2 separate regions of the Homo sapiens genome follow, and region 2 is linked to region 1. Evidence: fine-mapped expression QTL. A gene starts in region 1. The other region holds a variant in brackets. All regions are shown on one strand. Distances are from middle to middle.

What was found. PIP is the estimated chance that this variant, and not a neighbour inherited with it, causes the effect.
Region 2: its variant is the best candidate, but not a certain one, in a credible set for the expression of SLC40A1 in lung (TOPMed, PIP 0.69).

The regions. Positions count from the first base shown.
Region 1 is chr2:189,578,656-189,584,040 of GRCh38, forward strand. It overlaps SLC40A1 (solute carrier family 40 member 1), which reads right to left and starts at 2,131. Exons shown (of 8, transcript NM_014585.6): 1 at 1,763-2,131; 2 at 1,158-1,225. The coding sequence starts at 1,805. RefSeq lists silencers at 2,085-2,144, 2,215-2,384.
Region 2 is chr2:189,519,657-189,525,041 of GRCh38, forward strand. No RefSeq gene overlaps it. Among named protein-coding and RNA genes, the nearest start is that of SLC40A1, 58 kb to the right of the region's middle. The variant C/T (reference allele first, on the strand shown) is at 3,105.

The DNA of each region.
Region 1 (5,385 bases):
TTGTTTCACTAGGTTTCTACTTAGCATCATCAGCTGTTGGAATTAAAACAAACTCACACCAATTCCACTTTGTTTACATGTATTTGCAGAGTCACCCCTGTGTAAGCCTCTGGTAAGATAGGAGCTTGCTTTTCTAAAATGTCATCTATAAACTGCTATTTCTTAGAGAACCAATAATGTAGCTTAACAATTTCTCAAAGGTATTGGGTATAGATTTCCTCTTCCAGTGGTTTCCATCCATGTCTTAAGGATGATCCAATATAAGTTTCCAATTTAAAAGGAAAATAACATTCAAAAAATTTACTCTCAAAATTCTTTCCATTCTTTTTAAATACATATGAGCCATGGACAGAATATAGCCAGATTTATTGCTTTTAAACAATAATTGTTTAATGTTAAAGATTCTAATCATCACTGAACATATATCTAGCACCCTTCTAGTTTATTATTTTTCGGAGAGAGTTTTAGGAGCCCAGATCTACAGAAACACTAGGTCTTTTCCAGGACAACCTAGAAAGTCAGAGGGAAAACTGTAAATCCATTGCTGATATTCATTGGATGATTAATTTTAAGATAGCCTCCACTGCCCCAAACTTTATCTAACTATAGATAACATTTTTAAAGACCAGAATTTTTGTCACTCAGATATTTGTTCTGGGGGTCATTTATGTTTCAATTAATCTTAGAATGTTATTATTAGCTTAAGTCAGTCACTCTACCATTCTATTGTATTCTCATGGTGCTGCACGCTGGAACTAAATTTTAACAAAAAAAGAAAACAAAATATTTTAAAATGTGAAGAAGAGAAGGTATATGAGACATCCATCCATCTTTTGTAGCAGATATGTCTATTTACCAAAGCTACTAATGCAACATAAAATTTAAAAACAAGGCAAATATTCCTTTCCTTGATAATCTTGTCTGGATAGTTGTCTATCTACATAAACTACGATGATCTGATAATTAAGTTGCATTAACTAACACTCATGGGGAAAGATCTTCGATGTAAATAACGTTTTCATTAAAGCATGTGTACTTGGATGATTTATTTCTTTAACTGCTTGACAAAACTGGAAGTTGGCTTAATACAACTGGCTAGAACGAAAGGAAATAAAAAATTGCGCAACTGTGTTGTAAGACTATGCATTCTCACTTACCCAAGTAGAGAGAGAATGACCAAGGTAGAGAAGGAATTTTGCAGAGGTCAGGTAGTCGGCCAAGGATCCTGCAAAGACACAGGCGGGGTGACAAAAAGCGATGGTAGTCACTTAATGAGCTGAGGGCAGAATGCTTATCCATTTGATCTCATTAGAACATGATTATTAAAAACTACTTTGCAGGACAAACCACGTACATTTTATCAAGTTACCTATGAACCGATGTATTTCGTTCACTTAATACCATTCACTAAATTCAGTTATTGACCTAGTCAATAACTGCCCAACTTCACATTTCACATACAGTGAAGAAACTCTTGTTTCAGCATTCTTTTTTGGGTTGGTTGGTTTGTTTGTTTTGTTTCTTTTTTACACAAGGCAATCCAAACTGCCCAATCTACTCCATCCGTGCCTGTGTGCAAACCCCTTTTCCCACACCCTGAATTTCCTTTCTTCCTTAACGTCCACCAAATATGAGTCAAAGGATCTTTTTACAAAGCTATGGTTCACAGCAGAGCCACATTCCTCCAGAACTCGTGTAGAGTTGCTTGTCTCCAAAGCCCCACCTGGGTTTCCACCATATGCTTTCGGTCAACGACACTCACCACAGCATCCTCTCTGGCGGTTGTGATCTCCCGCCCTGGTCATGACACTAGGCGACCCCGCTGGCTCTTCTGCGGCTGCTATCGCTGCTGCTGCTCTCGCTGAGGTGCTTGTTAACAGGAGTGCAAGGAACTGGAGATAGCACCTCTAAAAACACAACAGCCTTGGGCAAAAAGACTACAACGACGACTTTGGCAAAGAACAAAAGAAAAGGGGCCCAGGGATTTTCTTTTTTCCTTCTTTCCAAACTTAGCTAACACTGTAGCTGAAGTTGGAAAGGCAAAGCCTTATGGAAGCGGTTTGGGAGGCTCAGCAGGTCGTCCGAGCCTAGCGGACGCCCTGAGCCAGCTCTCTCCGCCGCCGCCGCCGCCGCCGTGGGCCGGGCCCAGCTCTTATACCGAGTCGGGGGCGGAGCTCCCTGCGACCTCCGACTGGGGCCGCCCCGTCCCCTTCAGGGCCGCCCGGGCGTCCCCGCGGCGCGAGACGAGCTCCCGTCAACCTTGCGCGCCGGGCCGTCCCCGCGCCCTTGCCCGGAGGAGTCGCCCACCCCGGGCGCAAGCGTCCAACCGGCCGCAGACACCCTGCGCGGCTTGCGGGGACCTTCGCCTCGACGCGTTCCACTCCCCGGGTTTTCCTGCTCTCCGGGAAGCCGCGAGGGCAACCTCGGGGGGCGGCCGTGGGGCTGGGAAAAGGAGGAAGGCGCGTGGAGCCGGCGGGGCGGCGTAGGGAGATTCTGCGCGAAACTAAGCGTCAGGTGCTGGAAGAAAGCGCTGCGCACCGGCTACCCCGCAGTTCAGGGAAAGGGCGGCCGCCGGACGGTCGCAGTGCAAAGCTCCAGCGCGAGCTTGGTGGGTGGGGATTCCTTTTTTAACGAAAATAATTTTTAATACAGGTATCTAAATAAATATAATTCATGCCACAGAGGCCGCTTTCCTGGCCGTCCCATTCCGGCCCGCCTGCAGCAGAGAATGCCTTTCCTTCCCCGGACTGCATAGCAGGGCTTCCCTCAAAGAACCAGAATCAAAGGGCAGGAAGGGGGCGCAAAGATCAGAGTCCATCCCTCTTGAGAGGAGCAAACGGAGGCTTGCAAAGGTGAAGTCCCGCAGCGAGTTACAGACCTACCCGTATCCCCAAACTGGGGCCTCCAAATCCGTCCTGGAGACAGAATGAGGATGCTGCAGCCCCAGCAAACCCTTCACCATCATTCCTTCTCCCTCTGTACCCTCTCACCCCGCCCCCACGCGCGCGTCCCTTCCCCACCTAACCTCCAAATGCCCCAGTGACAGGCTTACCAGGAATACCGGTTATCCCAGTTGTGTCCCTGGATCTGTCCCTGTCCAGATAAAGCCATTCGGTGGCCTCCTGGAGGGTGAGGTGAATGACTAAAGAACACCAGACTCTAGCCTTGGTTGACTTCGTTTTAATCCTGCTGTGCCAAACCAACCCCTGGGGCATACCAGCCCCTTTTGCCAGTAGGTTACCTTACCCTTCTTAATCTCACGAAAACCCTGGTAGTGGATCCTACATATTGAAACTCCAACCAGATGCCACACCTTGAGCACAGGCCAGACTGACACCCAGTAGTGAAGGGAGCCACGCATGAGTATGTGCCCTGTATCTGCACTCTCAATCAGGAGCCCCAAAGGTCTACGGGGTGGGTGCAGCTGGATTCGGTTGGGATGTGGTCTGGTGAGTAGAGATAGGGGTTACAGTTTAACTACTGCTTTTCACTGCTTTTTGCCTTTTCAAGCCCTCTTTTTTCCTTTCTTTCACACGACATTCAAGTTCTTTCTCCCAATTTAGAGAGGTTTTGGTTTGCTAACCGTGGAGAATAGGGTCATTTATACATGCATCCTTGAGAATAAACCAAAGTATACTCAGATGAGTGAACTAAAGTGAAGGAGTGAACTGGTAAATAAACCCCTCCACTTTATGGCGATCCCTTATTAGAGATGAATTTTTTGACAGGTCCTCAACAAGGCACAAAGGATAGTGATAGTTTGCACATTTGTCAGAGTGTGTCTCAGCAACAAGGACCTCCAAGTGCTTTACATTAATTATTACATATTATAAGAAGGGGTGTCATGCTGTCCCCAACTTCCAGGTGGCTTTTTAAAAGTTCGGTTGGTTAAAAAAAAAATTACTTCCCGTAGACACTGTTTAAGAAGTATTTGTGGAAAGAGTGGCTAAGTCAGCATATACCTCAAAATGTGATATGGAGTCTCTGTTCTCCATTGTCACCAAGGAGTCCCCAGAAGCCAAAACCGAGAGAATGTTATAAAGAACAAATGGGATACTGCAGTGAAGCAAGTAGGAAAGATACTTTGGAAAGAAAACAAGCAAGGTTCATGACATTAAAACCAGTGAGTGAGCTGTGGAAGGGGAATCTTAAATCCTAATTAATGAGAATAGTTGAGATATGTTAGTTGGGGCTTATGAAATGGAAAGAAATTGAAAATGAAAATAGAATAAAAATCCTCAAACTATTCAGAAAGTGCAAAATGACAGAATTCTTTTGGCTTTGACATGCTAGGTTACAAAGCACCGCTTTAATCACAAGACCCTTCGGGCTCTTCCTCCTTCTGAGAAAACATTTGACCAGTTGAAAATTAAGATTTCTTCCAAAAGTCATATATATGTTTTTGAGAACACAGAACATACAACATTCCCATCAATTTAATCTAACTAAGAAAGTCATGCAAGTTTTAAGTCAGTTTACAAAAAATAGTAGATACCCTAAAGACCATGTGCCAATTCATTTTCAACATGTTTTAAAGTTTGTAACTAGGTTAACCACCTTTTTAAAAATCCCAGCCAGAATAAAATGTATATGGCTATTTAAAATTCATTTAAAGTGTTTATAGTTGGGAAATAAAAACGGTTTTATCATTTCATTTTTAAGTTGTCTTTTCACTTACCGGCCAGGCATCCTCAGTTTCCTCTGCCATATCAGATGTGCTCACCAGGACAAAGGCAGAATAAAGAATGGTCACTATTCCACTGCTCTGAAGAAAAAAAGTAATAGGGTTATCACCAACTATTACAGGAAGGGCTCCAATCCAGGACTGTGCTTCTGTTGGATGTGAACCTTTTTACATTAACTTAGGAGCTATAAAGCCACGTTTCCATTCAAAAATCTTTCTCAGTGTTACAGGCAAATTTCAAGAACGGTTTTATATTTCTATAATATGAATGAATGGCTCTTGAGAAGTTTAAGTTCAACATCTACTTTAAATTACAGACATCCTATTGAAAGATAAATATCCTCCCAGGTCTTCATTTTGTTTGAACATTTCAAATAGATTTGACCTTGCGAAGTTTCTTATGAATGCTGGCTCTCATTGGGGGTGCTCTCTTGCTTCCTCTCTCTCATACACACACACACACACACACACACACACACACACATATACACAGTAGTCTACAGTTTCTAGTTGGAAAAATTAAATACAGAATTCAGAAGATTCCAAAAGAAATATACTCCTAAGGCAAATCCATAGAGACAGAGAGCATATTGGTTGTTTTCAGAGCCTGGGAGGAGGGAAGAATAGGTAGTGACTGCTTTATGGGTGTGTAGTTTCCCTTTGGGGTGATGAAAATGGTCTGAATCTAGATAGTGGCAATG
Region 2 (5,385 bases), 59 kb before region 1:
TGTTTTTGAAAACAAGATGAAAATTTGTCTTTTAATCATTTTTTAACTTAGGGAAAGGAAATGTTCAAAGAACAAAATTTTAAACTGTGGCGCCCTTCTGAGGAGGAAAGTCACATACAGCAGAGGGAGCAGAGGGTCCGCGATGCGGGCCGAGCAAGAAGCAGGGGAGCTTCAGGACTGTGAGTGAGTTCTTTAAGAGCATCAGGCTGCAGTGGCTTGACAGGGCTGTCCCAGAGATGTTTCCTAGTAATGAAGGAAAGCCTCATGAAGGGCTGTCTCCTTCCTGATTATTTTACTTTTAACCCAACACAACAAATAGAAGGCAGATTTCCCAAACACACCAAGGAAGTTGAATGGCCTGAAGAAAATCTGACATCTGCATATCAGCATGGACTAGCTCTCAAATACTTTGCATGAATAATAAATTAAAATGGCAGCTCAAGCAGGACAGGCAGATGAGAAAAACAAAAAAACGAAAACCCAAAAGCCTGGCCAGGAGATAAGTACCTGATAAAATCATTCTTTTCAAGGAATGCCAGGAACCCAGATTTGAAGGTTGACCATGTCAACCTCTTCAGTCTCTGGCTCCTCTCAAGAAAAAAATGTGATAAATAGATAAGACTAAATTATAATTAGCATTTCAGTAGTTGTTTATACAGTACTTCAAGGTCCTTAAAAGCAGTTCTTTCTAAGCCTCTTAAATGTTTAGGCATGCTATTAATCTGTGTTATAAAGATGACAACTTATTTAGCAAATGTACACAGCAGTCTAGCCAATTATGACGAACTTCAAAATAGCAGAGTCCAAACCAATAGACTTTATTGATGTGTGTTTGCCCATGCTACTAATTTAGCATTTGAAGTTAAATTTAAAAGCAAAGCGCTTAATGTGAAGCTGCATCAGTTATTAACTAATGACTTATACATTCTTACACATTAAGTACATATATACAATGCATTTTAAGATGAAAAGAAAACTTTAAATAGGCCGGGCGCAGTGGCTCAGGCCTAATCCCAACACTTTGGGAGGCCGAGGTGGGCAGATCACCTGAGGTCAGGAGTTCAAGACCAGCCTGGCCAACATGGTGAAACCCCATCTCTACTAAAAATACAAAAATTAGCTGGGTGTGGTAGCAGACCCCTGTAATCCCAGCTACTCGGGAGGCCAAGGCAGGAGAACGCTTGAACCCAGGAGGCGGAGGTTGCAGTGAGCCGAGATCACACCATTGCACTCCAGCCTGGGGGACAAGAGCGAGATTGTCTCAAAAAAAAAAAAAAAAAGAAAAAAAAGAAAAAGAAAAGAAAAGAAAACTTTAAATAGACTATAAAGTGTGATGAACTCCCTAGTCAACTGGCAAGTGCTCTCTTTTCCAAAAGATTCAAGCAGAGGAGGATCAGTCATCAGATAGGAGGTGTCCAAGGCTCCCACTGCTTGGGAGGCAGAACTCTCTAGATCTGGGAATCGCAGCTCTAGATAGGGGCCAACTCAGGAATTACTGTGAAGCCCTTGAAATCTTCAGATACAAAATATACCTCAAGACGTTCTAATAAAAAGTTTTGGGTAGAGTTCTAGAGACAGCAGATTTAAAACATGGGTGAGGCTCTGACAAAACTTGATGATAGTGCAGATAGTACACTTTGCTGATGATTTCAAAATCTAAGCTAAAGCACTGCTCCCAAACTAAGAATTAATGTGCTGCTATAAGCCTAAACTTATAAAAATCATTGTTAAACTCTGCTTTCTAAGTAAGACCTTTAGGGGTACTTTGACTCTTTTAGTTGTTAAAGCCAGTACTAAATTGGATATTATCTCCATCCAGCGTAAATGTGTTCACCATTTTATAGATGGGAAGCATGAAGCCAGAGAGATAAGGCATTTTCCCTACATCATACAGCAAATAAATGACAGTTTGTAATATAATTCAAATATCTCCATTCAATAACTAGAAACCACAACAGTCATATAGCTAACCATTCTTGAGCATGGTTTTTAATTCTTTACATGATTTTTTGTATTTATTTTCCAATCTATAATGTAGGTACTACTGTCATTCTCATTTCACATCTGGGGAAATGAAGCACAGAGTGGCTATACAGCCTCTTCGAGGTCACACGCAGCTAGTAAAAAGAGGCAGGAGTGAAATTCAGCCAGCCTATCTCCCCAGTCCATGGTCTTAACCACTATACTCTCACCCTTGATTTTTCTACCAACTTCCCCATTGTAACTGTTTGTGGGTGCTGTATCTATTAGATAACCATAAATGACCCAGGTGTAGAGCAAGTCCTCCAACAGTGCAAAGACAAAATGAAACCACTAGGGTGTCTTTTTGTCTAATTATCAATAACCAGGATCAGCCCAAAGGAGGCAAATGTACCCCCAATCCCCCAACTAGCCACAATTCTTGTCATCACTTGTGGTCTTTTGGTTCAGGGCCTCAGTGCTCTGAGAATTCCTAACTCTACCAGCATTCACATTAATTTTACTGAGGCATTCTCTCCATGTACACAGTTGTTTGTTTTATAGAAATGTAAACACATTTCACCACTCACTGTTGCTTAAATACCTTCTATGATATTCTTGCCAAATGGCCTGGAAATTTGAAACCTCCCATGGTAGCTCATTCCATGTTTGGACAACTTTAAATGTCAGAAATTTCTTCCTCTCATTGAAACTAAATCTATCTGTAGCTGCCTTTTATTTTCCCTAGTTAATAACTTTTAGGTTTAATCTGATTTTTCTTATTTTGAGCATTTAATAAAAATGACAGACCTTATCTCCAGGAAAAAAAAATTTAGACATGAATAAAAACTTGTACAATCTTTGCGGAATTGCAGTGTTCTGAAGGCCTATGAATGGTCTATGGACTTTGGACTTAGAAACTCTCTTTTAATAACAGCCCTTCAAATACCATAAGGCAAGTGTGTTCCCCCCCTTTACTGATGTACTGTGTTCAAGTACTTATACCTCTCTTCTCTCTCCACGGAATTGCATCTGCTTAGATTTTGCTGCCCATTTCAGCCCACGGAAACCTTTCTAAATCAAGTTCTATGATCTAATCTATTCACTTCCCCTCCTTGGAGTTGCTTTTAGGCTTCATCAGCATG[C/T]TCTAGTCTTTTCAACACAGCCAATGGAAAGATATGGGCTGGGAAACAGCTGGAAACAAAGCACTGTAGTTGGCAACTAGCAACCTGCCTCTCAAAGAATGTCATTCAGTGTAAGTAGGATGTGTCCAGGACATTTTTTGCAAAGATCATTTACTGCGACCAAAGTCCATGAATACACAAGGAAGTGTGCATATTTAACAAGCAGAATATAATCATACGCAGTTAACTTTATTCCCAATAGAGACCTGCTTTTGTTCTGTTTTCTTCTAGGTTGGCTAGGTCAGGAATTGGACTAACCAACTCAGGGAGTATGAAAACATGTGAGCCACATGATTAAGAGCTTAAGTACTGATTGCAAAATTTCCTTTTATAGTCTAGCATGTGACCTTATGAAACTCACATATTTTCCCAGGTCTGAAGACCCCAAAACTTTTAGCCTTCCTACGTACATAGAATGGCTACCCAGTGGCCATTCTTTTGGCTTGAAAGATTCTCATGGTCACTAATTTAAATGCCATGTTTGGTATTAAGGGATACTTTAGTAGTTTAATTTACTTGTTTTAAAATAAACTTTTTCATGGCTTTGAGGGCAACTTTTACTTCTAGTGTTCTAGAGTTTTATGGACAAGTTCACATTCACCCTGTCCATGTACTCCATAGATTTTATAAATGAAGTCATATCCCTTTTAAAGTTTATCACTTCAAAACTAAGAGTTGTAATGAAGCCAGCATTGAGGAGTAGAAAGAAAATTGAAAATGATCTGTCAGGGGACCCTATTCTGTTATTAACCACCCAAGAAATTGTGGACAATTAAATTATCCTTTCTGGGCCCCTTATTTCTCATATGTAAAAAAAGAGGTCGTGACTTCTTCTCTAAGGCCTCCTCCATTTTTCAAAATTCTGTCATTCTCATTTTCTTAAATTAGAAGGGTGCACTAAACCATCAGAAGTAAGACAAACAGGCCAGGTGTAGTGGCTCACGCCTGTAATCCTAGCACTTTGGGAGGCCGACGTGGGTGGATCACTTGAGGTCAGGAGTTGGAGACCAGCCTGGCCAACATGGAGAAACCCCGTCTCTACTAAAAATACAAAAATTAACCGAGCATGGTGGTGGGCGCCTGTAACCCCACCTACTCAGGAGAATCACTTGAACCCTGGAGGCCGAGGTTGCAGTGAGCCGAGATCGTGCCCCTGCACTCCATCCTGGGAGACAGAGTGAGACTCCATCTCAAAAAAAAAAAACAAAAAACAAAACTAAGACAAAGAGTAGCATCTGGATTCCTTTCTGTGCATTAAACTTCAAAACAAAGTATTATTTTAATATACAAGGGCTATCATACAATATAATTTCATTTTATTCATGGTACATAGTAGATCACAGGATACAATCCCTCTAACCCAGTGGTTCCTAAACTTGGTTGCAGGTTGGAAACACCTGGGGAATTTTTTAAATGGCTTTTGCCTAGATCTTACTATATTAGCCCATGTTCACACTACCATAAAGATACTACCTCAGATTGGGTAATTTATAAACAAAAGAGGTTTAATTCACTCACAGATCTGCATGGCTGGGGAGGCCTCAGGAAACTCACAATCATGGCAGAAGATGAAAGGGAAGCAGACACCTTCTAGGCATCAGGAGAAAGAACGCCAAGCAAGTAGGGGAAGCCTCAACCTTTAAACCCTCAGATCTAATGAGAACTTGCACAAGAACAGCATGAGGGAAACCGCCCCCATGATCCAATCACCTCCCACCAGGTTCCTCCCTTGACACAGGGAGATTACAATTCGAGATGAGATTTGGATGGGGACAGAGAGCCAAAATCTTACCCCCAAATCGTCTGATTTAATTGGTAAAGGGTAATAAGGCCTGATAGAGCAGCAAGAGTATAAAAACTTCTGCAGGTGCAAACAGTTGTTCAAATCCAGAGTCCTCAATTCTGGCTGCATACAAGAATCACTCGGTGATTTTTCACACCTGCCAATGCCTAGCCCCACCTCCAGATTCTGATTGAATTGGCCTGTGGGACCTGGGCCTTGATAGGCTTTAAAACTCTCCAGGTGGTTCTGATGTGCAGTCAGCGTTGAGAACCATTCTTCTATTCCCTACCACACAAGTTCTATCTAGTTGATCATCCTGACCTCCTACTCCATCCCACAGTGGCCACTCATTGAATGAAAGAACCTTGGACCTTATTAAAAGGTACAACTCTACCTTCATTATATCAACCTCGTGCCAACTTCCTGCTTTTTCTCTAGAATCATAAGCCTTTCATCTTG